Homo sapiens: one gene and its partners. The protein of the gene in region 1 interacts with the protein of each later gene in a biochemical or structural test. Each region holds a gene or a part of one and is shown on either strand. Other genes may lie near its edges.

Region 1 (4,736 bases):
GCGCCTACGAACCAAATGCCCCCGTCACTCTCTGCCATTGTTTAGCAGTCTGACCTTAGACAGCTCACTTCACCACAACTGCAGGCCTCCGTTCCCTTATATGTATAAATGAGGAGGTTGTCTAGGGTCCTTTCCAGCTGCAAACCTCTGTGTTTTGGGGAGTTCTGTTAGCAACATTCTTGGACTTGCTCTCTACGAGAAAAGCTAGAAGTCGATTATTAAAATGGAGTCCACAGGAAGCCTGCAGGGCTTTAAGACAGCCTTCTAAAGAGTTTAGAAACACTCACCAGCCTGCAGATGACTTACTCCCACTACTTATTACAAAGTATCATGGCAAGTAAGAAAGAAATGGTCAGCCACTGGGAGAGCAGGCTGAGGTTGCAAGGAAGTGGCAGGTGCTATCGTTGGGATCTTGGGGGAGCATTGTAGAAAGGTCAGCTTTGGAACCAGGCACTGAAAAACGGGTGAAATTTCAACAGGAGAGGCAGTGCACATGGGTTGTGATTTGAGCAGCAGTGAGTAGTGAATGGGGTTGGAGCAAGAGGCCTGTGAGCCCAGTCATCACATGGAAAAGGGAGGTGAGGGCCAGAGTGCAGAGAACCCCTCTCACTTTCCTGTGGGTCTCTCCTCTTCTTTTTTTTTTTTTTTTTTTTTGAATTGGAGTCTTGCTCTGTCGCCCAGGCTGGAGTGCAGTGGCGTGATGTTGGCTCACTGTAAGCTCCGCCTCCCGGGTTCACACCATTCTCCTGCCTCAGCCTCCCGAGTAGCTGGGACTACAGGCTGCCACCGTGCCCTGCTAATTTTTGTATTTTTTTTTAGACGGGGTTTCACCTTGTTAGCCAGGATGGTCTCGATCTCCTGACCTCGTGATCCACCCACCTCGGCCTCCCAAAGTGCTGGGATTACAGGCATAAGCCACCGTACCCGGCCTTTCTCCTCTTCTTTAAACTGCATTTAGGTTGTCCTCATCTATAAGATGAAGGAATAAGATTAGATGGCCTCTTTATATGGCTTATCTACTTCTAATAAACTTTGGTTCCATATTCCAGCCACCACCCATAAAGACTCTTACTTTTTCCTCCTCAATCCATCAGCATCAGCCAGCATTCTCCCTCTCAGTTCATCCTGGTCATTACCTCACTAATCTGTACCTTGACTCTTATTCTACCTGGGACCTCCCCTCACTAACCATACTTGATTTATTTCCTTAAGAGCGGATATCCTGTGTATTCTTAGCTTACAGTGGCTGAGCTTTTGGGAGGTTTAACAAATTGTTTTTCAATAGACTCTCAGTCCTAAATGATTTTATTGCAGCTGTATTATTCTTTTTGAGGGGAGTAGAGAATGTAATCCTAGTTGTATGCCATATTTTTTGTATTGTTCAAGTTGCATTTTGTTGGGCCTGTAATATTGAAGAAAATGTCACTTGTATGCAGAATAGGAGGGAGATTCCTTATGCTGTAGAGGAACCATTTTCCTAGGATAGTACAATTCCTTAGAGTCATCTCTAAGGGTGAGCAGCAAAGCTAGAATCCCTCTCTTGGCTTTGACCTTGAAGGAGTCAGTTTTCCCAAAGACTAGTTCCCATGGAAAGAAGATGGTCTCCTTATCACAGCAGCAAGAGGAGGCAGTATGAGCAGAGTGCCTCACTGTTGTTGACCTCTAGGGACAAGTGAGCCGGCAGTATTTCAGACAAGCTGGGAAAGAGGCTGTCTGTGAGTCCTGGGAGCGAGTGAGCACTGGCAGGCTCAGACATAGGTGCTGGTTAGCAGGACTGCTTTTCTGTTTCTTGTGTCGGCTTTGTTTATTTCCTCTCTATTTTCCCCCTGGACTTAGTAAAGTCTTTCCGAAAATACCAAAGGTGAACCAGGGGAAGAGTTTTTATTTTCCATGTTTGGACAGAACTTTAAAGAGGAAATGATGTACCCCCCTGGGAGCCAGTGAGGTGGCAGCGATGGTGATTAAGGAGTGAATATCTCAAGGAGGTGGACGAATTCGGGGATCACTAGCTCAGCTGCCCCTCTCCACCTGGAGCATCTCCTTCCAGTGCTACCCTCAGAACATCTGGGCTTTGCTCTAGTGAGGGAGAGACTAGCAATGAAGGTGTCTTGAGATCAGCACTGTAATTCCACCAGGACGCCACCGGAGTCCGGTGTTAAGCTTCTACTATGGCAACAGAATGAGAGCGTGGATGGGTTGAAATGCCATTTCAACAAGGAAATAGTAGAATTAGAAGAAGCATAAGCACTAAAAGGAACATTTTGTAGCAGAAATGTTAAAAATCTAAAGGAGGCAAGTGAATCAACAATGACTCTTCTATTCTGGGCAAGTCCAGCCCATTTATGTAAGGTGGTTATTCTGCATCTCTGTCTTCTGCAAGTAGTGCTGTGGCAGAGCTGCGTTTTGTGGAGAGCGTCCCCGGGGATGGAGCAGATCAGTTGGTGATGCGTATGTATCAGAAAGCTCGGCAGAGCACCCTGGAACGTAGGCCCTCTCGCGGAGTGGGTAGTGGCCCTACATGTTCATTTCCAAGGGCAGGAGAATAGACCGTTCCAGCTGCGGCCTGGCCAGGGATGACCCCACATCTGACACTGCAATATGGGGGCAACTGAACCAGTCCTCAGCCTCAGTGTGTTCCAGGGGCTGCAGCTGGGGAGCAGTCGAACTCTTTCTTGAGACAATTACAAGGCCACCGCTGCTGCTGCTGAAGGGAAGTTACTCCATGTTTACAATTCTCAGGTTTGAAGTTTTCATGCTTTGCCAAGGTAGAGTGAACCATGCGTCTTTGCAGGCTCAAGGGATGTTTAAAGAAGCGGTAGGACATCGTCCACCCACAAGCAGAGACCGCAGGATAAAGCAGACATCCAATGTAAATACAACCCGTGCAAAAAGCAGAGTCGGCAGACCTGGAGTGCATTCGCAGTATCTCCCGGGGGTGGGGGAAAGAAATCACCTCTTCAGAATGTCCAGAGGGGAGTTGCCTTGCTTACCTGGGGGGCGGTACCCTCTCTCGTGCCCTCACAGGGCTACTCAGCCTCAGGTAGCTGGTGCCAGAATAACACAGACTCAGCTGCCAGAGCCTGCTCTTAACACCTGTGTTTCCTTTTCAGATCTTACAGGTGAACAAGGTGATGTCCATCTTGTTTTATGTGATATTTCTCGCTTATCTCCGTGGCATCCAAGGTAACAACATGGATCAAAGGAGTTTGCCAGAAGACTCGCTCAATTCCCTCATTATTAAGCTGATCCAGGCAGATATTTTGAAAAACAAGCTCTCCAAGCAGATGGTGGACGTTAAGGAAAATTACCAGAGCACCCTGCCCAAAGCTGAGGCTCCCCGAGAGCCGGAGCGGGGAGGGCCCGCCAAGTCAGCATTCCAGCCGGTGATTGCAATGGACACCGAACTGCTGCGACAACAGAGACGCTACAACTCACCGCGGGTCCTGCTGAGCGACAGCACCCCCTTGGAGCCCCCGCCCTTGTATCTCATGGAGGATTACGTGGGCAGCCCCGTGGTGGCGAACAGAACATCACGGCGGAAACGGTACGCGGAGCATAAGAGTCACCGAGGGGAGTACTCGGTATGTGACAGTGAGAGTCTGTGGGTGACCGACAAGTCATCGGCCATCGACATTCGGGGACACCAGGTCACGGTGCTGGGGGAGATCAAAACGGGCAACTCTCCCGTCAAACAATATTTTTATGAAACGCGATGTAAGGAAGCCAGGCCGGTCAAAAACGGTTGCAGGGGTATTGATGATAAACACTGGAACTCTCAGTGCAAAACATCCCAAACCTACGTCCGAGCACTGACTTCAGAGAACAATAAACTCGTGGGCTGGCGGTGGATACGGATAGACACGTCCTGTGTGTGTGCCTTGTCGAGAAAAATCGGAAGAACATGAATTGGCATCTCTCCCCATATATAAATTATTACTTTAAATTATATGATATGCATGTAGCATATAAATGTTTATATTGTTTTTATATATTATAAGTTGACCTTTATTTATTAAACTTCAGCAACCCTACAGTATATAAGCTTTTTTCTCAATAAAATCAGTGTGCTTGCCTTCCCTCAGGCCTCTCCCATCTGTTAAAACTTGTTTTGTGATCCGGCTCTCAGGAGTCACTCTGTAAAATCTGTGTACACCAGTATTTTGCATTCAGTATTGTCAAGGCCATGACTGTTGTTTTAGTAAACTTGTTAAAATCAGATGATGTCAGAGTTGTGTATAAACACAGTTATATCCCTCTTCTGGTACATTTAATGTTGGGTTAATGAATTAAAAGAACTGTTATGGCCTGCACTTACTTAAAATGATACCCTGTAGCTCTGGCCAGCAAGTTCTATATCAAATTCTCTGCTGTTAGTTTGGCAAATTAGAATTATGATTTGCTCCAGTGTTATGGTCCTGGAACAATAACAACGACCCTGGCAATTTTAGTTTTGGAAGTTTCTTTGCAGCACATTTGTTGTTTTGGGGTTTGGGGTTGTTTAAGGGTTGAATTTTTTTGTTTTGGCTTTGGTTTTTGTTTTGCTTTTTGCAAGTGGTTTCATCTTTTTAGGCACATAGGAATTTTTTAAAACTATTTGTAACAAAATAATTGCATGACTACCCAGAAGCAAACTGAAATGGATCATGAATCATCTATACATAGAGGATAAATTTATTTATGGCCGACTCTCAGCCTGTGACCACCCCTCCTCATCTGCCAGCCCCTTCTAGAGCTGT
Region 2 (7,044 bases), on another chromosome or scaffold:
TCTCACCCACTCCACTGCTTGCTTTCCTGAAACACTCACTGCTGCAGCCTCTCACTAGACCTGGCTCCCTTCCTTGGCAGTGGGGTTTACCTGGGACTCAGTAGAGACCCAGGAAGTGGGGTCTAGGATCTAGGGAAGCAGGATGAGAAACTGAGAGGACCAGGGGGCATTCGTTATAATGACCTACAAGCAACCAAGTCTCTTGCTATTGCAACCCTAAAGCGTGCTGTGTCTACATTCAAAGATAACATGGGGACCTGTTTCCTAACCCCCTAAGCTTCCCAGGGGCCTGAAAGTGGGAGGTGAGGCCAAGGAATCTTTGCAATGATGGAAAAGACAGGTGGCAGTGTCTTGGCAGGGTTCAGGTTTCAGCTATTTTTTCTTCTGTGGTTCTTTTACTCCAGAAAGTCCAGTTCTTTAAGTTCTGAGAATAGAAAGACACATCCTTTGCAACTCCAGCAAGAAGCTTACACCCAGGATGGATGCTGTCAGCTCTTGTCATGGTTTTGTGTTGTGGGGTTGTCTGTTCTGTGTTTACCCGTAGGTGCCATCATTGATTCCCAAAAGCATCAAGATTACACTTTTTAGAATGGACAAATTAGAACATTGTCCTGAAGTGGAGGAAATGGGGAAGAAGTGGAGGCAAGGACCCTGCTCAGGCATCATTTCTTTGCTGAGCACAGCCATGCAGTCCCCACATGTGCCTGTGGTGAGCTTCCGGGGTAACAGACACACACAGCAGCGACTGAGCACCACCTTAACTCCTCCCGTCCCAGAGCTCTCATCCCAAAGATTGTCTCTCTGCATGGTCCAGGTCTTCTGCTCCAAAGAGCCGTAGCATTAGAAGCATGGGCCACAGCTTAAGTCAAAGGGAATTTTCCTTTGTATTATTAATATTTTAGAGTTTCTGAGTTGTTAAAGTCTTGTGGTTTTCTGTATCAGCAGCTTCTCTGTGTACTAGAGAAGGTAACTCTCTGTAGATATAGATTGATAGATAGTTAGATATATAAATATATATATATATATATATATTTGCCAAACTGCCTTACAGGGTTTTTTTTTCTTTCTTTTTTTTTCCTTTTTTCAGTGTTGTATGTGTAGCAGGCACTTGAGTTTATATGAAGATGTTCGCTTCAGTCAAGGATGGAAGGAGTTGTGAGGTGGAAGGGAGATGTGAGGCAGGGAGAGAGGAGGCAACAGAGTATGAATTCATGACCACCAGCCACCACTAGCCAAGAATGTCCAGGTAGATTGGGGTGGCCTTCCCCAAAGCATGGAGGATTTTGTAGATCTCCTTGATGTTCAACCGCTGCTGTGGTTCCCTCTGCCAGCACCCCAGCATGACATCGTACACCTCTTTGGGGCAGACTCGGGGCCGCTCCAAAACACGACCTTGGGTAATGCACTCAATGACCTGAAAGAGTGAGAAGAACAAGGAAGTTACACCCAAAGCTCAGCCTTGGTCCTGTGGCTCAGACTCGGCAAAAAGCAACAACTTCCCGGATTAGTTTCTATGCAGAGCCGAGGCTCTCACAAGCACAAGCTAAAGGCTAGGCTGTATACAGCACTGGTATATTTGTCTGTCTGGTGCACAGTGCAGTGAGCAGCAGTGGCTGGTGGAGTCCTCTGCTGCCCTTCATACTCCACTTCTTGGGCCAGGCCCACATTGACCATTGACTCCCCATACTCTCTTCTCTTTTACCTCACTTTTCTTCTCTAGTCCTGAATCTCATCAGGATGACTGAGCTGCATTCATTTTTCACTTGATAGTGGACATGGGCTTCTGACCTGTCCCTCCCCCTTTCATGAGCCTGCCTCACTTTGAAACTGCCATGAAGGAGCTCTGCACCCTCTGGCCCCTGCATGCCTATCTCCTCTTATCTCTCATTCCTGGCAGGCTCCCAGTTGCAGACTCTGTGCACGTCACCACACTTGCCTCTGAGTCATTACATAGGACCCTTTTGCAGCAAGACCCATCCTTCCCTGCTGCTTGCACTAAACCATGCTTCCAGTTTCTCTTAAAGTCCTTAACAATAGGACTAACTGCTTGATTCACCACTGCCTTCTGGGTGGCCAGTTCAAGTCTGTTAACCTCAGGATCTCAGCATGTCCATCTGTAAGATGGAATCAAATGTCTGCCTTAACCACCCCCAGGAGTGTTGTAAGGATGAAATGAGACCACGAAAAGGGACTGTATGGCCCAACATACTGAAGGAGAAGCCATAAGGAGGAGTAGGAAGAAAACAAGTAATGCATGCCTGGCCAACCCCAGCAGGCCACTTGAGACCCAAGTGTATAATTTGCAATGCATTTCCAATTCCTCAAAGATAATTCTTTACTGACACTGAATATATGCATTTTCAAGGCTTCATTGTCTAGTTTTTAGGTTGGTTTTCACTTCTCCCTAACTCTACCACTGCATAACTTTGGTCAAGTCACTGACCCCGAACTTCAGTTTCTGCATTTAAAGATTGGTCATAATGATAAAAATACAAAGAATAATCTCTAGCTCAGCAGCTGAACAAATATTATTTCCCTTCTCTGCCACCATTAGTCTGTATCTAATTAGGTAAAAGCACTGTCTTTTTTCTCCTTTGCATGTCCCTACACTGCTCAACAGTGCCTTGTTTCCAGTATTGTCTCATGTCACGCTGACTTTGGGAGGGCTGGTCAAACCATCACTGTGTCAGCATCCGCCTGGTTATATTCACCCTGGAGTTTACGATGGCCCCTTGGCTCATTTCTTTACCAGCCTGATAAGTCTCCAGCTGCTTATATTCCCCATTCATATTAGAGACCCATTTCCACCCTCCATTACCTTCACCTCCAGGAAAAGGGATTCAGTTCGAACTACAGTAGCAGCTGCTAATGCCAAGATCAAAGGCACCTGGGAGTGTCTCTTCTAATGTTGGACTATCCAGGTTTGTTGATTTCCATGGAGAAACCGATGATCAGAGACTGTCAGTATGTGGCTGCTATGGTGGGTGGAGTGGGGGAAGTGGCTGAGGGCAGAAAGCCTGCCTTTAAGGCCAATGCCTCTGTGAGTCTTAGAAGAAACTGCAAACACCCTGTTAGCTGCTATGAGCCAGCTCAAGAACAGATGCTGAGTCTTCTGTTAAGACCAATAGCAACCTCAGCCCAGAACCTCTGTTTACTGGGGCCACCAAACTACAAGGAGGCAGTGTTCAGGTGCATGCATGGTGTGTGTGTGTGTGTGTGTGTGTGTGTGTGTGTGTGTGTGTGTGTGTTCCTAACCCTTCCTCCCCTGCGAAAACAGTAACAATTTCTTAAACACCATAACAAATGGGTTCTAGTATATATACTTTCATTATTTTAAAAGATTGTTAAAATATTTTGTTCTACTTTGGGAAATGTGGTCAGGCCCCACTGAGCTTGTGAATCATGAGATAGTACACGTTTTAAAAAATAATTTCTTTTCAGTCTTTGTAATTCACTTAATCAAGTGGTCAAGACATAGGAGAGCAGAGACAAACATAGCTTCCAAGAAGAAAGACACTCTGTTGAATATTCAAATAAGATTTCAATACCAAAAGGGTCTTGTGTTTACATTTTCCCAGCAAACAGAAGACCATAAAAAGAATTGCGATGTTTCATAGGGATGTTTCATAGGTCGACTGGGTTGAAAGACTGAGCTCCTTACTGCCTACAAACTGCACTGAATTCCCTGGGGCAACATGGCATGGTCCATGCATCACTGAGAAGCATCTTGATGGGCTTTGGAGGCAGAGGAGTCCTAGGATTACAGCCCAGGCTTTGTCCCTGCTTTGGAGGCTCTTACCTGTGAGACCCTGGCCAGCCCATTTCAGTACCTCAAGCAGACCCCCTTCCTTTAACCTGAATCTCAACAGGTGTTTTTGCAAAAATTACTGAATTAATAGAGCTAACATGCTTAGAAAAGTGCCTACCACTAAATGTCAGCTACTATTAATTTATGTTTACTAGCATTTTTTATTATTGCAAATTACAATTATAAAAAATATAATGGCTATTTATTACTAAGTTTAACAGTAAACATACTAATAAACATAGTAAAAACATAGTAATAAAATAAACACGGTTTATTTTATTCCTAGACGTTCACACATGACTCTACCAGTTATAAAACTGGTCTTCCCAAATTGACCATCTGGTACATCCCTGGGCTTGGCATACCTAAAACCTTTGTGCACCCAGATTATGTGGGCATACTAAGTAGTGGGTGTTTCCACAAGATGGCACAATTGAAAAACTCATAGCTGTTCTGTTTTCCTTTTTTGTCATAGTGAAACATTTGTGATTTTTAAGGGTAGCAGATTTAACAGAGGCATGACTTGAGTCTCAATTTAGACCTCTGATTTCATGCTCTTTTGACAATTACACCACATTTCCTACAGTTCCATTTTTTTTTTCCTACTAAGAAGCTCTCTGCTCCCACTAATGCCTGCATTCACTCTGCTGGCTCTAAATCCCACCTAATGTCTTGTTCAGTAGGTCCAAGTTCTGGGCTGAGATAGCTCTTATGAGCCCTCCCCCAATCAAGATTCCTACGCACCCCCTTTTTACCTCCGTGTTTGAGAGTTGGAACCATGGCTGCTTTCCATAGGTGAAGATCTCCCAGAGGATCACCCCGAAGCTCCATACATCACTCTCTGTAGTGAACTTCCGGTACATGATGCTTTCAGGAGGCATCCAGCGAATGGGGAGCATGGTGTGTCCTCCCACCTAAAAGGGGTTGAGATAGAGGCACACAGAGTGACCAGATGGCCAGAATGAGTGTTATCTGTCTGCACTCTTCACACATAGATGCACTCTTGATGCATCCTATTCTAAGATAGTCACAGCTTTATGCAACTTCTATCAGAGGTGTGTGAAGATGCTGACTTTGGAGACCTACGATAAAGGAGACAGCTAGACTAGCAACTAGAGGTAACACCTGAGGGAAGGTAGGTTCCTTGGCACTCAGTGTGTAGAAAGATCAAGGTAATCTGAAGTGAGAGAGAAGGTTTCAGAATCTAGCACTACAGAAAAATCTAACCTTAAGAGCAAGTCCAGCAAGAAGTCAGCAGAATGACTAAGCCAGTCACCAAGGATCAGTATCTGCAAACATCAGGTTAGATTCTTGGCTGCAGTGGCACAGTATATTCCATGTGCATCTGATCTGCAGAACTTTAGCTTCTAACTGACAATCTCGAATCTCTCACCACAATTTAGGACTCAGTGTTTCAAGTGAAGGAGACAGAGACATTCCAAAAGCGTGGAAGACCACGTGCTAATAAGGTAGGAGATGGACAGAAAGAGAATTCACCACAGTTCTTAGTAAGATCTCAAAGGACAGTAGGGAGAGTCTTTAAAAATAGCCTAAGGAGGATATCAACCACCTGTGAATCTGCCAAACTGAAAGCCAAGGGGAAAAGGAAGTGACTGACAAGGATAAACACCCAGGGTACCCTTTACTGAGAAAAACATTAGGGAACTCCTCTTTGCCCAGCAGGCTAGAGATGTTAGCATAAGTGGGAGAAAATTCACAGCATGTGTGAAAACTCAGGAACTAACTGCATCATTAGTAAATAGATTTTCAGGAACTGAAACTTTTGCCTAATACATGGAACTCATTGTTAAAAAAACTACTTAATATTGAAAAAAGAGTTGTCTATTTATGTCCGGATGAGGTATTACTTAAAGTTCTCATTTCCTTCTTTCTTATTTATTTATTTATTTATTTATTTATTTTGAGACGGAGTCTCGCTTTGTCACCCAAGCTGGAGTGCAGTGGCGCGATCTCGGCTTACTGCCAGCTCCACCTCCCGGGTTCACGCCATTCTCCTGCCTCAGCCTCCCGAGTAGCTGGGACTACAGGTGCCCGCTGCCACACCCGGCTAATTTTTTGTATTTTTAGTAGAGACGGGGTTTCACTGTGTTAGTCAGGATGGTCTCGATCTTCTGACCTCGTGATCCGCCTGCCTCGGCCTCCCAAAGTGCTGGGATTACAGGCTTGAGCCACCGCGCCCGGCCTAAAGTTCTTATTTCTATGGGGGGTCAGTTAGAGAAATAATAACAATGAATAATTAAGAACGAATAAGTTGGGAGATGGGCAATCTTGTTTCCAAAAAGGGAAATCATGTTTGCCTTAACCACTTGAAGAATTTTAGGAGGTAAATTATAATACAAGTTTGCAGAGCAGTTCTTTTCTTTTCTTTCTTTTTTCTGAGACAGAGTTTCACTCCTGCTGCCCAGGCTGGAGTGCAGTGGCGCGATCTCCGCTCACTGCAACCTCCGCTTCCTGGGTTCAAGCGATTCCCCTGCCTTAGCCTCCTGAGTAGCTGGGATTATAGGCATGAAACACCATGCCTGGCTAATTTTTGTATTTTCAGTAGAGACGGGGTTTCACCGCATTGGTCAGGCTGGTCTCAAACTCCTGACCACAAGTTATACACCCACCTTGGCCTCCCAAAGTGCTGGGATTACAGGCGTGAGCCACTTTGCCTAGCCAGAAAAGTTATTTTCAACCTGGGACTTTCTAATCAGGATAGTTTTGTATCCAGTGTAAAGAAAACTGAAGATACTTCTTTCAGACAAGCAAAGACTCAGAAAGCTTACCACTCACATCCTTTCAGAAAATATAGGAGCCAAGCTAATTGAATACATATTCTAGAAAAACAGTAAAAATAACCCAAGCTATGCAATTATTGGAACATAACAAAAAATGCAGAGCAAATAAGCCACAAAAATGCAATTTAAATTTGAATAATGGTTGTTAATTTGGTAGTAAAAGTAATACAATTACTAATAAAGGCTTCCTGTAAAATAGAGACATAAAGTAAATAATAATACTAATAATGCTATTAGTACTACCACTGATACAACTAACATACTTATCTGGAATGAAACTTTCCAATAATTTCAACCATAAATGCATAGAAGAGTAGATATAGAAATAATTAAAAGCCTGATAAAGGCTGTATGTTATAGAAAGGAAAAAAGAAGCTTACAGTGATTAATTGTTGAGATTAACACTTTAAATTTAAATATGCTTACTAAAATTTT
Region 3 (7,000 bases), on another chromosome or scaffold:
TCCACGGTTTCCTAGGAAGAGAAACTTGATCTGATTCAATCCTGACGATGATTCAGAATCAAGTCACTTTGCCTGTCTAACCTCACCCATGGTCCTCATCTGCTGCAGGAGGCGATGCCGCTGCTGTTGTTTCTAACTGCTGCTGTGCTATTTGCACCATCTCTTTGTTTCTGATCTTCCTTGGGCTGAGACTCAGTTTGTTAGAACTGTGTGTAAAACAGGAATGAATAGGCAGTGAGGTCCTAGTGGGGTCTCCAACGAGCTGTGTACAAATTTGGTACTTGGGATGCGTGACATCTGTTTAGCTGCTCAGATGGCTGGTTTTAGTTTCAGTTTGGGATATTTTGTGCCTATTTTGAGGCTACTGGTTAGATTTTAGATTTTTCAGATAATTAAATACGTGATCCAGGCTGGGCGCAGTGGCTCACGCCTGTAATCCCAATACTTTGGGAGGCCGAGGTGAGAGGATTGCTTGAGGCCCTGTTCAAGACCAGCCTGGGCAGGACAGTAAGACCCCGTCGCTACAAAAATAAAACATAAAATAAAAAAAAAATGTGATCCAGGAGATAGTCAACGAACAAACCTAAAGGAGGAAGGCCATTATCTGCTACATTCTCTCCCACCCCTCTCTCCCTTCTCTTCCCTCCCAGCCCTCCTCTCCTTTCCATCTGGAGCCAGAGGGGCTCTCCAAAGACTTCAGCCCCAGCCCCAAGCTGGCTAAAGCTCCTTCTTATTCCCCCCTCTCTTTCCTGATCTAGAAATCTGGGGGTCTGCCATCCCTGGGGCTGACCCTGGCCAATGTCACCAGTGACCTCAACAGGAAGAACGTGACGTGCTGGGCAGAGAACGATGTGGGCCGGGCAGAGGTCTCTGTTCAGGTCAACGTCTCCTGTGAGTCTCAGTGGCAGCTCCGGCACCCACCCCCTACTCATCTCTTCTTCCCTCAAAAGAGGATGTAGGGTGGGGGGCTGGAAGAAAGGGTGGGATGTGTGTCTCCACAGCTGCTCCCTCCCAGCTGTTTCCAGATTCCCATGAAAACCTGATCCTTTGGGGGAAGTCCTGGGGTCTTGTCAAGGCCAGAGGGATGGAGATGGATTTCTTTCTGGCCCCCTGCCCGAGCCTTGCTACCTGAGGCCCTCAACGCCAGATGCCCGGCTGTTCCCACTGCTCCGAAGTATTTTTTCATGCCCGTCCCTCATCGGGTCCTTCTCCCCGCATCCTAGTTTCAAAAGAGGAAATTCTCCTCCTGAGTTCCTCTTTACGCTCGCTGCCTAATTTCTCTAGATCAGCCAACAAATTATCTTAAATATTCTACTTTACATCAGTTTTCTTCTTTTATTGTGAAATATACATAGAAATGTGCAAAAAATATATATATTTTAAACAATAATTACTCTTACCAGCATCACGGAAGATCCCCCACCACCCAACACCTCTCCCTGTTCGCAATCCCATCCCACTCTCCCATCTCATGTTGACTTTTGTCAGGATAACCATTTCCTTGCTTTTAAAAATAATTTTTCTCAAATATGCTTTCCTATCGGTATCATTTAGTTTTGCCTGTTCTTGTACATTATATAAATGGAATCATACTGCGTGTATTATTTTGTATCTGGTTTCTTTCATTCAACATTATATTTATAAGATTCATTCATGTTAATGGGAGTTGCTATATGTAGCTCATGCAATTCATTGCTAAATAGTATTCCTATGTATGAATGCTATATTATATATATATATACATATATTTATGCATACATACACTTTTTTTCTATCATTGAGGGGCTTTTACTTTTACCAGATTGGGTCTATTTCTTTTTTTTTTTTTTGAGATGGAGTCTCGCTCTGTCACCCAGGCTGGAGTGCAGTGGCGCGCTCTCGGCTCACTTCAAGCTCCGCCTCCCAGGTTCACGTCATTCTCCTGCTTCAGCCTCCTGAGTATCTGGGACTACAGGCGCCCTCCACCACGCCCAGCTAATTTTTTGTATTTTTTTAGTGGAGACGGGGTTTCACCGTGTTAGCCAGGATGGTCTCGATCTCCTGACCTCGTGATCCGCCCGCCTCGGCCTCCCAAAGTATTGGAATTACAGGCGTGAGCCACCGCGCCTGGCCCAGATTGGGTCTATTTCAAACGCATATCTTTTTTCAAAAAGAGTGTGTGTGTGTGTGTGTGTGTGTGTGTGTGTGTGTGTGTGTGTTTGAAGAGATGGGGTCTCAGCCTGTTGCCCAGGCTGGAATGCTTTGGGATCATAACTCACTGCAGCCTTGAACTCCTGGCCTCAAGCGATCCTCCCACCTCAGCCCCCTGAGTAGCTGGGATTACAGGAGCAAGTCACTGTGCCTGGCTTTTCCCCAAAAATTTAACTGTATATATTTTTGGCTGGTTTGATTGTTAGGGCCCCTGACCCATCTTCTTCAGCTTGGTTACACTGACTTCTTCTAGATTCCTTATCCCAAAGACTCCATGTTTAATTGTCATAAGCTGATACCCCACTCCTGTGGGGCTGTGACTTATTTATGGCCCACCACTTATGTTCTTTAAGCCTCTAAATTTTATATGCCTGCTGCCTGATTTATTTAAAATGTATTGTCAACTTTCTTCAAAACATCTCTCCTTGGTGAATTTCCCAGGGCCTGCTGACCTGTTTCTCCCAGGCCTGCCCTTTGATTTCGGGTTCTACTCGCTTTGCCCGTGGACTTGTCGGGTGTGTGCCAGGCTCCCTCCAGCTGCGCCCTGACCTCCTGCTGTTGCTCTTTCTGGCCCACAGTCCCGGCCAGTGTGCAGCTGCACACGGCGGTGGAGATGCACCACTGGTGCATCCCCTTCTCTGTGGATGGGCAGCCGGCACCGTCTCTGCGCTGGCTCTTCAATGGCTCCGTGCTCAATGAGACCAGCTTCATCTTCACTGAGTTCCTGGAGCCGGCAGCCAATGAGACCGTGCGGCACGGGTGTCTGCGCCTCAACCAGCCCACCCACGTCAACAACGGCAACTACACGCTGCTGGCTGCCAACCCCTTCGGCCAGGCCTCCGCCTCCATCATGGCTGCCTTCATGGACAACCCTTTCGAGTTCAACCCCGAGGACCCCATCCCTGGTGCGAGGGCCATCCTGAACCCTGCCCCCACTCCTGGGCTCCTCCTGGGTTACAGCCAACTTCCTGCTATAGCCCTGACCCCAGAAATTGGAGTGCCTGGTTCGGGACAGAAAGGAGTCTGGAGTCCTGGTGTCCCGCTGTTCTGGCCTCCTTACCCTCTCCCCAAGCCAGGACTCCTGAACTCCTGAGCTATTCCGTCCTTGTCGGCTGGCTGAGGAGACAGCCATGCAGCAGGGCATCCTGGCCCAGCTGGAAAAGGGTCACATGCATCTTCTTCCTTGAGGCCCAGCAGCCCACCTCCATCCCCCCTCGTCCCATGAAGGAATGAGTCCCAGAGTAGGCAGGGGACTCACTGCTTTCCTCCTCCCTCTGACTGCTTTCTCTCCTCCCTCTGACTGCTTTCTCTCCTCCCTCCTGCTGCAGTCTCCTTCTCGCCGGTGGGTGAGTAGCCCAAGGTGGAGGGCAGGTTCTGCCTGGTCTCTGGAGCTGAGGCTGGGGCAGAGGGTACAGCTGAACTGATCCCTGAGAGACCAGCTGGGGCCAGGGTTGGGGGGTTACTGGAGGCTACAGTGTGTGTCAAGGCTCACCCCTCCTGCCCTGTGTCCCTACAGACACTAACAGCACATCTGGAGACCCGGTGGAGAAGAAGGACGAAACACCTTTTGGGGTGAGATAGGAAGTAGAAGCTTGTGCAGACTTTGGGACCGGGAGGCTGGGTAGAGGCTCATCTGCATGTCATTTCTGGTCAGAGCAGGGAGATCACTACCATCTGGCCTGAGCTCTGACGGCCACCCGCACAGCCACTGCAGGGGTCCCCAGGGGAGGATGAGGCAGGTCTGGAGACCTGGCTCCGGGCTCCCATGCAGGATGAAAAAATGGCTTACTACAGGAGGCTCTGAGAGTACAGGAGGAGCCCCTGGATCTAACTACCCCTGTCCCCCACCAGGTCTCGGTGGCTGTGGGCCTGGCCGTCTTTGCCTGCCTCTTCCTTTCTACGCTGCTCCTTGTGCTCAACAAATGTGGACGGAGAAACAAGTTTGGGATCAACCGTGAGTCGGGGCTGCAGAGGGCTGTCTGTCTGTCTGTTCTCCTGGCTTTGTTTCCTACTGGCTCTTCCTGACTCTGTCTCTGGGGGGCTGTGCACATGGGAGTTCCAGGGCGTGTGAGTGTGTTTGGGGTATAAATGAAGGCCTGGCTGTGAGGCTTGTGAGTGTGAGTGTGTGTGGGAGCGTGTGTCGGGCTGGTGCTGGGGTAGTTTCAGAGGCGGCAGCTGCTAATTGGTGGCTGGATTGTAGTCAAGCATTAAGTGGGTCTGGGAGGTCTGGGCTCTGTGGGGGTGGAGGGGGAGTTCTTTGGTGCCCATGGGGCCAGGGGTGGGACAGGAGCCAGCACAGGGAGAGGCGGTGGTGCCCCCTTCCCCCTGCCTGCTGTCTCGCTCCCTAGCTTCTCAGTCTCTCCCCTGCAAGTTACAAGGTGGGGGTGACCAGGCATCCTGCAGGCAAGGGTGGGCAGGGCCAAGGTGTGGGCAAACCCCTCCATGCGGCTGTGTCTCCTCTCTAGGCCCGGCTGTGCTGGCTCCAGAGGATGGGCTGGCCATGTCCCTGCATTTCATGACATTGGGTGGCAGCTCCCTGTCCCCCACCGAGGGCAAAGGCTCTGGGCTCCAAGGCCACATCATCGAGAACCCACAATACTTCAGTGATGCCTGTGAGGGGCTATGCTGGGTCAAGGGCAGGGACGAGTGTGTGTGTGTGTGTGTGTGTGTGTGTGTGTGTGTAGAAGCCCCTAGGCCTGAACGATCCCTCCCTTTCTCCCACCCCTCCCCAGCCCTATTCCAGCCATAGGCCCTGTCATATTCTTCTCAGGCTGAGTCCAGCCTGGCTCTTAGCTGCATCCCCTGCCCAGAGTCACAGCTAGCCCAAACCATGTCCTCTCGGGGCAGGTGCAGCCCCACACTATGACATGGGGCTTGCTGAAGGGGTGCAGGTTGAATTTTAGCCCCCATGCAGTCCCTCGTCTGGGCAGCCTTGTGCAGCACACAGCCCTGCCAAGACAGTCCCCGCTACAACCCCAGCCCTCCCAAGACTGGGGCTACCGTCTGACCCTGCAAGCCCCCTCAGGTGTTCACCACATCAAGCGCCGGGACATCGTGCTCAAGTGGGAGCTGGGGGAGGGCGCCTTTGGGAAGGTCTTCCTTGCTGAGTGCCACAACCTCCTGCCTGAGCAGGACAAGATGCTGGTGGCTGTCAAGGTGAGACCCTGCCCCGGGGGGTACTGCTGGCCTGGGTCCCACCCCCAGGAGCTCCATCACATCAGGACAGAGTGGGGGGAGATGCAGAGGGCTGACATGGCTGGATACCGGGGTGGGCGGGCTGCCCTGGGTGAACAGCAGTGAGGGCTCGGCCCCCAACTCAGTCCTGTCCCTGCCGCTTCCATCCAGGCACTGAAGGAGGCGTCCGAGAGTGCTCGGCAGGACTTCCAGCGTGAGGCTGAGCTGCTCACCATGCTGCAGCACCAGCACATCGTGCGCTTCTTCGGCGTCTGCACCGAGGGCCGCCCCCTGCTCATGGTCTTTGAGTATATGCGGCACGGGGACCTCAACCGCTTCCTCCGGTACCAGCACCTGGCCTCAGCGCTGGCCCCGGCCCCTGGCTCTGGGCCCCGTCTTCCCTTCCCTATAGACATCCCTGCTTGTCTTTCAAACCAAGGGGAGACACCAAGAAAGATCAGGAAGGCACATTCCCGTCCCCAGGGAGCTCTGAGATGGTAGAGGAGGCAGATGTGTGAACATAGGGGTGACTCTTGCAAAGGACAAGTGTCAGTAGTCAGGGAGGTTGCGATGGCAAAGGCCGTGAGCTAAAACTTTGGGGTGGGTGGGCTTTGCAGAGGGTGTATGTGCATTTGTGTGTGGCACACAAAGGCCAGGCCTGTAAGGGTAGCAGTTTAGATAACGACAGTAACAACGACAGTAATGAACATTTATCAGGCACCTTCTATGTTCCAGGTGCTATGTTATATACTTTATAATTTATTATTTTTTATTTTTTAACATGTATTTATTACTGTTATTGTTTTAGAGTTGGGGTCTTGCTCTGTTGCCTAGGCTGGAGTGCAACGGTGTTGCAATAATAGCTCACTGCAGCCTCAAATTCCTGGGCTCAAGCAATTCTCCCGCCTTAGCCTCCCCAGTAGCTGGGACTACAGGTGCACACCATTGCACCTGGCTCTACAATTTGTTCTTATTATGGTTCTATGTGCTGGTACATATATATCTTGTATAGTAATATAAATATGTATTTATTTTTTATGGCCTCCAAGCATATATTGCAATTTACACTTGAAGCAAGTTACAAAAAATTCATTTCTTTGGCTTCGGACAGAACAACTCTGATACATTTATCTATTTGTGCTGATAATTTTAATAACTTCGAGAAATGTGCCTGTTTCACAGATAAGGCTTAGAGAGGTTCAGTGACTTGCCCAAGGGCACACAGGTAGTGAATGGCCCAGGGGTGATGTGGCCCCAGGCAGAGCCCCTACTCTCAGCCCCTGATGTGATGGTCACATGTTCCCTCGGTCTAGTCCTTCTCTGATGAGATCACCCCCGGGAGGATGGGGCAGTGTTTGCAAGGCAGGGAGAAGAGCAGGGTTTGGAATCAGCTGCCACTTATGAGCTGAGCCTTCTTTGCCAAGTAGCTTTCCTCTCTGACCTCACTTTCCTCACCAGTAAGAGGGACAGTGTGGGGGCTGTGGTTCTGGATGAGCAAGCGCTGTATGGTTGTCCAGTTGATGGTCATGATCTGGTCCCCAAACATCCCTTTGGGAGTGATGGGTCATTCATGCAGTCAGGCTGCAGGACTCAGCTAGGAGAGACCCCTGAGTCTTGGGCTTATCCTGTGGACCAG
Region 4 (7,044 bases), on another chromosome or scaffold:
GGGAGAGTTTTTTCTTGAAGTGGTGGGACTTGAGCTTGCCTTCATAAAGGAGACCTTTGGGAAGTAGGGAGAAAGGGAAGAAGATCAAACTTTCTAAGAGGCATGAGTAACTTGGCCCTGGGTAGGAAGCCACCTAAGCTTGCTGGCTGAACACAGAGTGTGTGTGGAGACTGGAGAAAGCAGAAAAGCAGAGTGGTCCATCCTAATGAATACAGGATGTCCAATGGGGAAAGGTTTGGTATGTGGCTTTAGGTAAACTACTTAAACTGACTGACTTTTAGGGGCATTACTTGCACTATCCAGGCAAGTCCATGTCTGCTGTAGAGCATAACTGTTGGGTTCAAGTGAGATAATTGAATAGAAATTCTTCGTAAATGTTGAAGACTGAGTGTTGATGGATGATTACGGTGGCACTGAGGTGGTGGGTGATTCCGGAACCACGGCGTTTTTGTGCTGGAAGTAACCAAGGGCTGCCCTAACTCTTCACATTTTACCAATAAAGACAGAAGCCAGACCTGAGGGTACCTGCTCAAGCTGGTTAATAGCAGCAGCACAAGAACTAGAACTCCAGTCTCTTGGGTTGAGGAAAATAAAAATTGCAAGTCCAAGTCAACTCTCCAGATAACTGGGTTTCTCATCTTGCACCAGGTCAACCTGGTGAGTTTAGTGAAGACCATGAGACCCCATTCAACTTAATTACTGGAGAGCCCCTGAGGCCCCACAGCATATCAGGCTGAGAGCAGGAATTCTGACTCTCAGTGTCATTCCTGGGATCACATTCCATCTCACAAATATTTAAGCAAGGGCATGAGGGCAAGTTGCCAAGTAGTACGATACAAAACAAATGTCTCATTGTGTTTGTTGCTGCACAGTGTGTTGTTTGTGTGGTCCAAAAACCATCAAGTGACTATAACTAGAATGTGACAGTAATTTGTAACAACAGTGACTTTTTTGGGGGGAGGGTCTACTTTTGTGACATGCTTCAAAATTCTGAGAAAGGGTTGCAAAAGAAATGTTCAGAAATGTACTAAATGGGCTTAGAAAACTTGTGAACCCTGTCTGAACTTTTATTAGATTGTCCCACCACTCACCCATTTGACATCTGAACAAGGAAAGCATTATTTATAACAGCATGCGTGAAATCCCAGAAGGGATTCTTGAAAGAATTAGAGTGAAAAATCTGCCCCAAAGAGACAGCAAGCAGAAAATAAATGATCAGATGAGAAAACATGTAAATCAAAACGTGAATCTTTTGTTCTCTCTCTCTTCTTTAAAGGAAACAGAAGCTTTTTCTTGGCTATTAGCAATTCAGGATAGAGAACCAGTATCAGGTTTTCTATCTTGCATTGCTAATGACCAAAAAAAGTGGGTGCTGCTATCAAAGGAGCCACTTGGTTAAGGCCAAATGAAGAGTTCAGGAGAGTGACATATGATGATTCTTCTTAATGTCTCCAGAATGGCTGCTTCTGGAGTAAGTAAGAGAGTGAAGGTTCCAGAGAAGAAAGCCACACCTCAAAAGCATTAATACTTTAAGACTTAGAAAACACTTTCACAAATGCCTGCTTGAGTAAATACCTCCCAACAACATTAGGAGGTATACATTATTACTTACATATAATTATTAAACCTTGGCCACAGAGAGATTTGGCAACTAGTCCAGGTTACCCCAGTAGGAAACAGGTAAGTGAGCGATTGGAAACCAGCTATTGTCATCCACTGCATTGCAGCTGTGAATATCCAGGTAGATATGGAAATCCTGAGATCTTGCTAGATTAACACACCTCAAAGTGTATTTTTAGCTGTCTTACCTGAGACATATATAAATGGTTATCTCTCCCACAAACATACATTCAAATAGTTTAATTTACCAAAGTTAAGTTTGTTCTTTCCTGCCAAACTCCTCACATACTTTAATAAGCCTCAGTCCCTGATGGATCTCCTTGAATTGAAGAGGGTTGCAATTTACAGTACATTTGACATATTTGATCTAGGAACTTCTGGGGTTGTTAAAATAACACAACTCAGACAGCATAACAAGAAGACCAGGTCCCAGTCTTTATTTTAAGATTCCTACTTCTCTAAGCCCACTTTGACCACTGGGGTTCTATTTTATCTAACGAGAAAGAACAGCAACACCAAAATGCACAGTGGAGCTGGTTGCACCATAGCACTATGCTGACATGAACAATGATGAAATGAGCTCTTCTTTATAGGGTAGGAAGAAGGTTAAAATGAGAGAGGTAAGGTTAAAAATAAGATGTATAGCAGAAGGGATTATTTTTCCCTTTGATTTCATCTTACCCATTTTTTTTTGCATGTTAGGTAAGCAAAACAATGCCATGTTTGTATCTTAAGAGGTTCCCATAAAATGCTTGCTGTGTGGATGAAAATGGTCTGTTAAAATGTGTAGACCTCTGTCCTATCTGCACCACCCAGGCAAGGTCACATAATTGCCAGGAGCAATTTCATCATCTGTAGGCTAGAGGTGCCACCAAGAGTCCTGAGTTCTTTATGGTTTGCTCACACAATTAAATGACACCAGACGTGTATAGATGTTTTCTAAACCATATGGTACATTCCAATTATGGCTTCAGAGAATGGCAAGGAGACTAGAGATGCTTTATTCTAGGGGTTAACAATCTTTGAAAATGTGTGTGCCAAAGTGCCCAGCCTTTTCTGGCACATAAACAGAAGGGTCATTTGCCCACCTCTGCAAGGTGGCAGCAGCATCCCTGCATGGCCCAAAGCAGTCCTCTCCTTGGCATTGCCATGTGGGCTGCCCAGACCTGGTGAGATCATTCTACCCTCATACCGCAAGTCCTCCAAAGCATCTGGAAACAACAGGTCCTCTGTGTATGTCAGCAGATTCCCTCTCCCAAAGTCCTGGGCACCTGGGGGTCACAGAGTTATAAACAGGGCAGATATTTGCCAAACCAGAAATGTGCTGAAATAGCTGCACCCATATTTACTACCCACATCCTTTCTGGTTGGTCAGTGTCTGTGCCACACTGATTGCAGTTTGAGTATCGACCCTGAGGGTGACTGTTGCCACCACCTTCAGACATCAAGTAAGACCATAAGAGAAGTCTCTGTCCATTGAACACTGATGACCTGTCACTGCTGAAGGAAGAGTGAGGAAATCTAAGGCCAATGGAAGCCAACTTAGCCTTTATGAGCTTTTTGTTTATTAAAAACTGAATAGTAGAGATGGGTCACCTGAGCCAGAAGTTTTTGTCCCTATTTGTCAAATTTGGATGCATCATACAGAGAAGAATGAAATAAAATATCCTCCCCCTTTTGTACTCTTGTGCTTTCTTTGGTGCTAAGAACATCACTGGGAATCACCAAGCATGTTAGACATCTCTGACATTTCAGCCTCTTGGGTTCTGGGGTAGGGGAACATTTTCCAGACACTATTAGTTTATTTTCTTCCTTTAATAAATACTAACTGGATATTGAGATTAGAATTGGGCAGAAACTCTATGCACCATTACTCTATAAACTCAGGACCCAGAGTTGTTAGAGAGGTCCAATTTTCTGCTGTAGGATAAGCCCACCTGCTCTCAGCTGTCAGGCATACTGTGTAGCATGGTGGTGCTGGGGGGTTACCAGGATGAAAAGCAGAACCTACCGCCACAGGACTACTGTGCAGAAATCTGTTCATGGGTTTGAAATCGGGCATCCCTGACAAACCTGGAAATGAGCTTCCTAACTTTCCTCCATGAAGTAGGAAGTCATATACAATTTTACTTTGTCAAAGAAAGTTTTCTTTGCCTGTACTAATGCGATTGCTATCTGATGCCCCAGTCTCAGTGTTTTCATTAAAATGGGCATTTAAAAAATGTATTTATCTATTGTGGTAAATAATCTAAGGAGCAGTGCCCTGTAATAGAGGAAAGTCCTGAGCTTAGAATCCAAAGACCTGAGTTTTGTTTCTGTAAGCAATCTGAATCTTATTGCCTTATTTGTAGAATGAGAATAATGATGCCTGACCTGCCCATCGCTGAGTGATGGTGGAGGGGTTTGAATCAGCATCATGCACACATAAGACCTGAAAGCAGAAGGAGACTCTGGCCTTGCCAAGGAAGTAGAGTCACTGGTTGGTCATTTTGGATGCAGAGTACCTCTTTGTTCTCCTGGTCAAAGTGATCTTGTTAATTAGAAGATTGAGTCATCCTCTTAGCAGAAAGTGTGTGTATGTGTGTGTAGTTTTATTTATCCAAGGTGATCATCTACCTAATCATCATCCCTGCTCCTATCTGGTTTTGAGAGAAAGAATTGCAGATAATATTTTTTTAAATGATTTTGATCACTCTTTGCCTTCTGTCTCTGTTGCTTGAGACTGTGAAGAAGTCATATATCCTTTATGTGTTTATAAACAATTAAAACTATAAAGTGCAAATAAGGAAAGCAAACAGTGTCCCCCAGCAGCTCCCTTCCACACCTGGTTTCGGGGTGACTGATGCCTCCCTGTTGATCCCTTTCTCCCCAGGTCGGTGGCCACACAATGCTGCCCATTCGCTGGATGCCTCCAGAGAGCATCATGTACAGGAAATTCACGACGGAAAGCGACGTCTGGAGCCTGGGGGTCGTGTTGTGGGAGATTTTCACCTATGGCAAACAGCCCTGGTACCAGCTGTCAAACAATGAGGTGTGCAATGGGTCTGGCCAAGACCCTCCAGAGGGCTGAGATCCCAGAGGCATCCATTGGCTGGGGCCTTGTTTTGGGTTGGAAGACCATGTCAGGACACGATCTTATGGGCTTTGTTGGTGGCAGCACTTCCCAAGTAGCCTGCTATGTTTCTAAATTTCATGGTCAAAGTATAATCACTCTGAGAAAGCAAAGCACAGTGCTCGCTGCTATGTCCTTGCTCCTCTGGTGATGGGACTGAGGAGTCACTTTATGCAGCTCATCTGATAAATTAATAGCAGACGTAGCATTCCAGAATCCATACAGTCCAGCAAGTTCTTTAGTATTGTTCCAATGAAGTTTCAAGATTCTTTCCTTTTTGAATATTTCACCAGAACATTAACTTCTAGTGAAAAACTCAAGCATTTTGTTTTTTCTATTCTTACGCTTGCAAATATTGTTTATATTTGAGGCACAGCATCTTGATCAGGCACCGTACATCTTTTTCAGATCCATTTCTATCTTTTTAATCCAGTTCCTTTATCCAATAGCCTGAGAGGTTTCCTGTCAGTCAGTGCCTTAACACCCAGGTGACTCAGGTTCCATCTCAGACCAATAAAAACCACAACATGTGGGAGCTCCAGTGTGAGGTTTGGGACCATTCCATATAAATTATTTTTCCACCAGTTTTGTGAAATCAGAGTGGCTTGGACAAATGGATATAAGCCAATCAAAATAAACACGATATAAACTAACCTATAATAATTGCTCTCTTCCTTCTGAGAAAACAAAACCAAGAGTGGGCTTCTTTTGTAAAAGCCCTCTCTTCTGCTGTTTTTTTGCACTGACATTTCTTCGATGTGCATTGCTTTTCCTCCTGTCTCATCCTATCTTTGATCTCCATCCAGGTGATAGAGTGTATCACTCAGGGCCGAGTCCTGCAGCGACCCCGCACGTGCCCCCAGGAGGTGTATGAGCTGATGCTGGGGTGCTGGCAGCGAGAGCCCCACATGAGGAAGAACATCAAGGGCATCCATACCCTCCTTCAGAACTTGGCCAAGGCATCTCCGGTCTACCTGGACATTCTAGGCTAGGGCCCTTTTCCCCAGACCGATCCTTCCCAACGTACTCCTCAGACGGGCTGAGAGGATGAACATCTTTTAACTGCCGCTGGAGGCCACCAAGCTGCTCTCCTTCACTCTGACAGTATTAACATCAAAGACTCCGAGAAGCTCTCGAGGGAAGCAGTGTGTACTTCTTCATCCATAGACACAGTATTGACTTCTTTTTGGCATTATCTCTTTCTCTCTTTCCATCTCCCTTGGTTGTTCCTTTTTCTTTTTTTAAATTTTCTTTTTCTTTTTTTTTTCGTCTTCCCTGCTTCACGATTCTTACCCTTTCTTTTGAATCAATCTGGCTTCTGCATTACTATTAACTCTGCATAGACAAAGGCCTTAACAAACGTAATTTGTTATATCAGCAGACACTCCAGTTTGCCCACCACAACTAACAATGCCTTGTTGTATTCCTGCCTTTGATGTGGATGAAAAAAAGGGAAAACAAATATTTCACTTAAACTTTGTCACTTCTGCTGTACAGATATCGAGAGTTTCTATGGATTCACTTCTATTTATTTATTATTATTACTGTTCTTATTGTTTTTGGATGGCTTAAGCCTGTGTATAAAAAAGAAAACTTGTGTTCAATCTGTGAAGCCTTTATCTATGGGAGATTAAAACCAGAGAGAAAGAAGATTTATTATGAACCGCAATATGGGAGGAACAAAGACAACCACTGGGATCAGCTGGTGTCAGTCCCTACTTAGGAAATACTCAGCAACTGTTAGCTGGGAAGAATGTATTCGGCACCTTCCCCTGAGGACCTTTCTGAGGAGTAAAAAGACTACTGGCCTCTGTGCCATGGATGATTCTTTTCCCATCACCAGAAATGATAGCGTGCAGTAGAGAGCAAAGATGGCTTCCGTGAGACACAAGATGGCGCATAGTGTGCTCGGACACAGTTTTGTCTTCGTAGGTTGTGATGATAGCACTGGTTTGTTTCTCAAGCGCTATCCACAGAACCTTTGTCAACTTCAGTTGAAAAGAGGTGGATTCATGTCCAGAGCTCATTTCGGGGTCAGGTGGGAAAGCCAAGAACTTGGAAAAGATAAGACAAGCTATAAATTCGGAGGCAAGTTTCTTTTACAATGAACTTTTCAGATCTCACTTCCCTCCGACCCCTAACTTCCATGCCCACCCGTCCTTTTAACTGTGCAAGCAAAATTGTGCATGGTCTTCGTCGATTAATACCTTGTGTGCAGACACTACTGCTCCAGACGTCGTTTCCCTGATAGGTAGAGCAGATCCATAAAAAGGTATGACTTATACAATTAGGGGAAGCTAATGGAGTTTATT

The links.
Region 2: the proteins of NTF3 (region 1) and NTRK3 form a complex in vitro, tested with the Homo sapiens proteins (one study listed by BioGRID).
Region 3: the proteins of NTF3 (region 1) and NTRK1 form a complex in vitro, tested with the Homo sapiens proteins (one study listed by BioGRID).
Region 4: the proteins of NTF3 (region 1) and NTRK2 form a complex in vitro, tested with the Homo sapiens proteins (one study listed by BioGRID).

Annotation. Positions count from the first base shown.
Region 1 is NC_000012.12:5,491,084-5,495,819, forward strand, and holds the end of NTF3 (neurotrophin-3 isoform 1 preproprotein), read left to right. Parts: intron 1-3,048; exon of another isoform or gene 3,049-3,110; coding exon 3,111-3,905; 3' UTR 3,906-4,216; downstream 4,217-4,736. UniProt on the Homo sapiens protein: Seems to promote the survival of visceral and proprioceptive sensory neurons.
Region 2 is NC_000015.10:87,875,707-87,882,750, forward strand, and holds part of NTRK3 (NT-3 growth factor receptor isoform a precursor), read right to left. Parts: intron 4,723-7,044; coding exon 4,564-4,722; intron 1,415-4,563; coding exon 1,229-1,414; 3' UTR 1-1,228. UniProt on the Homo sapiens protein: Receptor tyrosine kinase involved in nervous system and probably heart development.
Region 3 is NC_000001.11:156,870,865-156,877,864, forward strand, and holds part of NTRK1 (high affinity nerve growth factor receptor isoform 2 precursor), read left to right. Parts: intron 1-758; coding exon 759-891; intron 892-2,768; coding exon 2,769-3,095; intron 3,096-3,518; coding exon 3,519-3,536; intron 3,537-3,706; coding exon 3,707-3,762; intron 3,763-4,041; coding exon 4,042-4,144; intron 4,145-4,655; coding exon 4,656-4,802; intron 4,803-5,215; coding exon 5,216-5,346; intron 5,347-5,535; coding exon 5,536-5,708; intron 5,709-7,000. UniProt on the Homo sapiens protein: Receptor tyrosine kinase involved in the development and the maturation of the central and peripheral nervous systems through regulation of proliferation, differentiation and survival of sympathetic and nervous neurons.
Region 4 is NC_000009.12:85,015,714-85,022,757, forward strand, and holds part of NTRK2 (BDNF/NT-3 growth factors receptor isoform a precursor), read left to right. Parts: intron 1-4,492; coding exon 4,493-4,651; intron 4,652-5,538; coding exon 5,539-5,724; 3' UTR 5,725-7,044. UniProt on the Homo sapiens protein: Receptor tyrosine kinase involved in the development and the maturation of the central and the peripheral nervous systems through regulation of neuron survival, proliferation, migration, differentiation, and synapse formation and plasticity.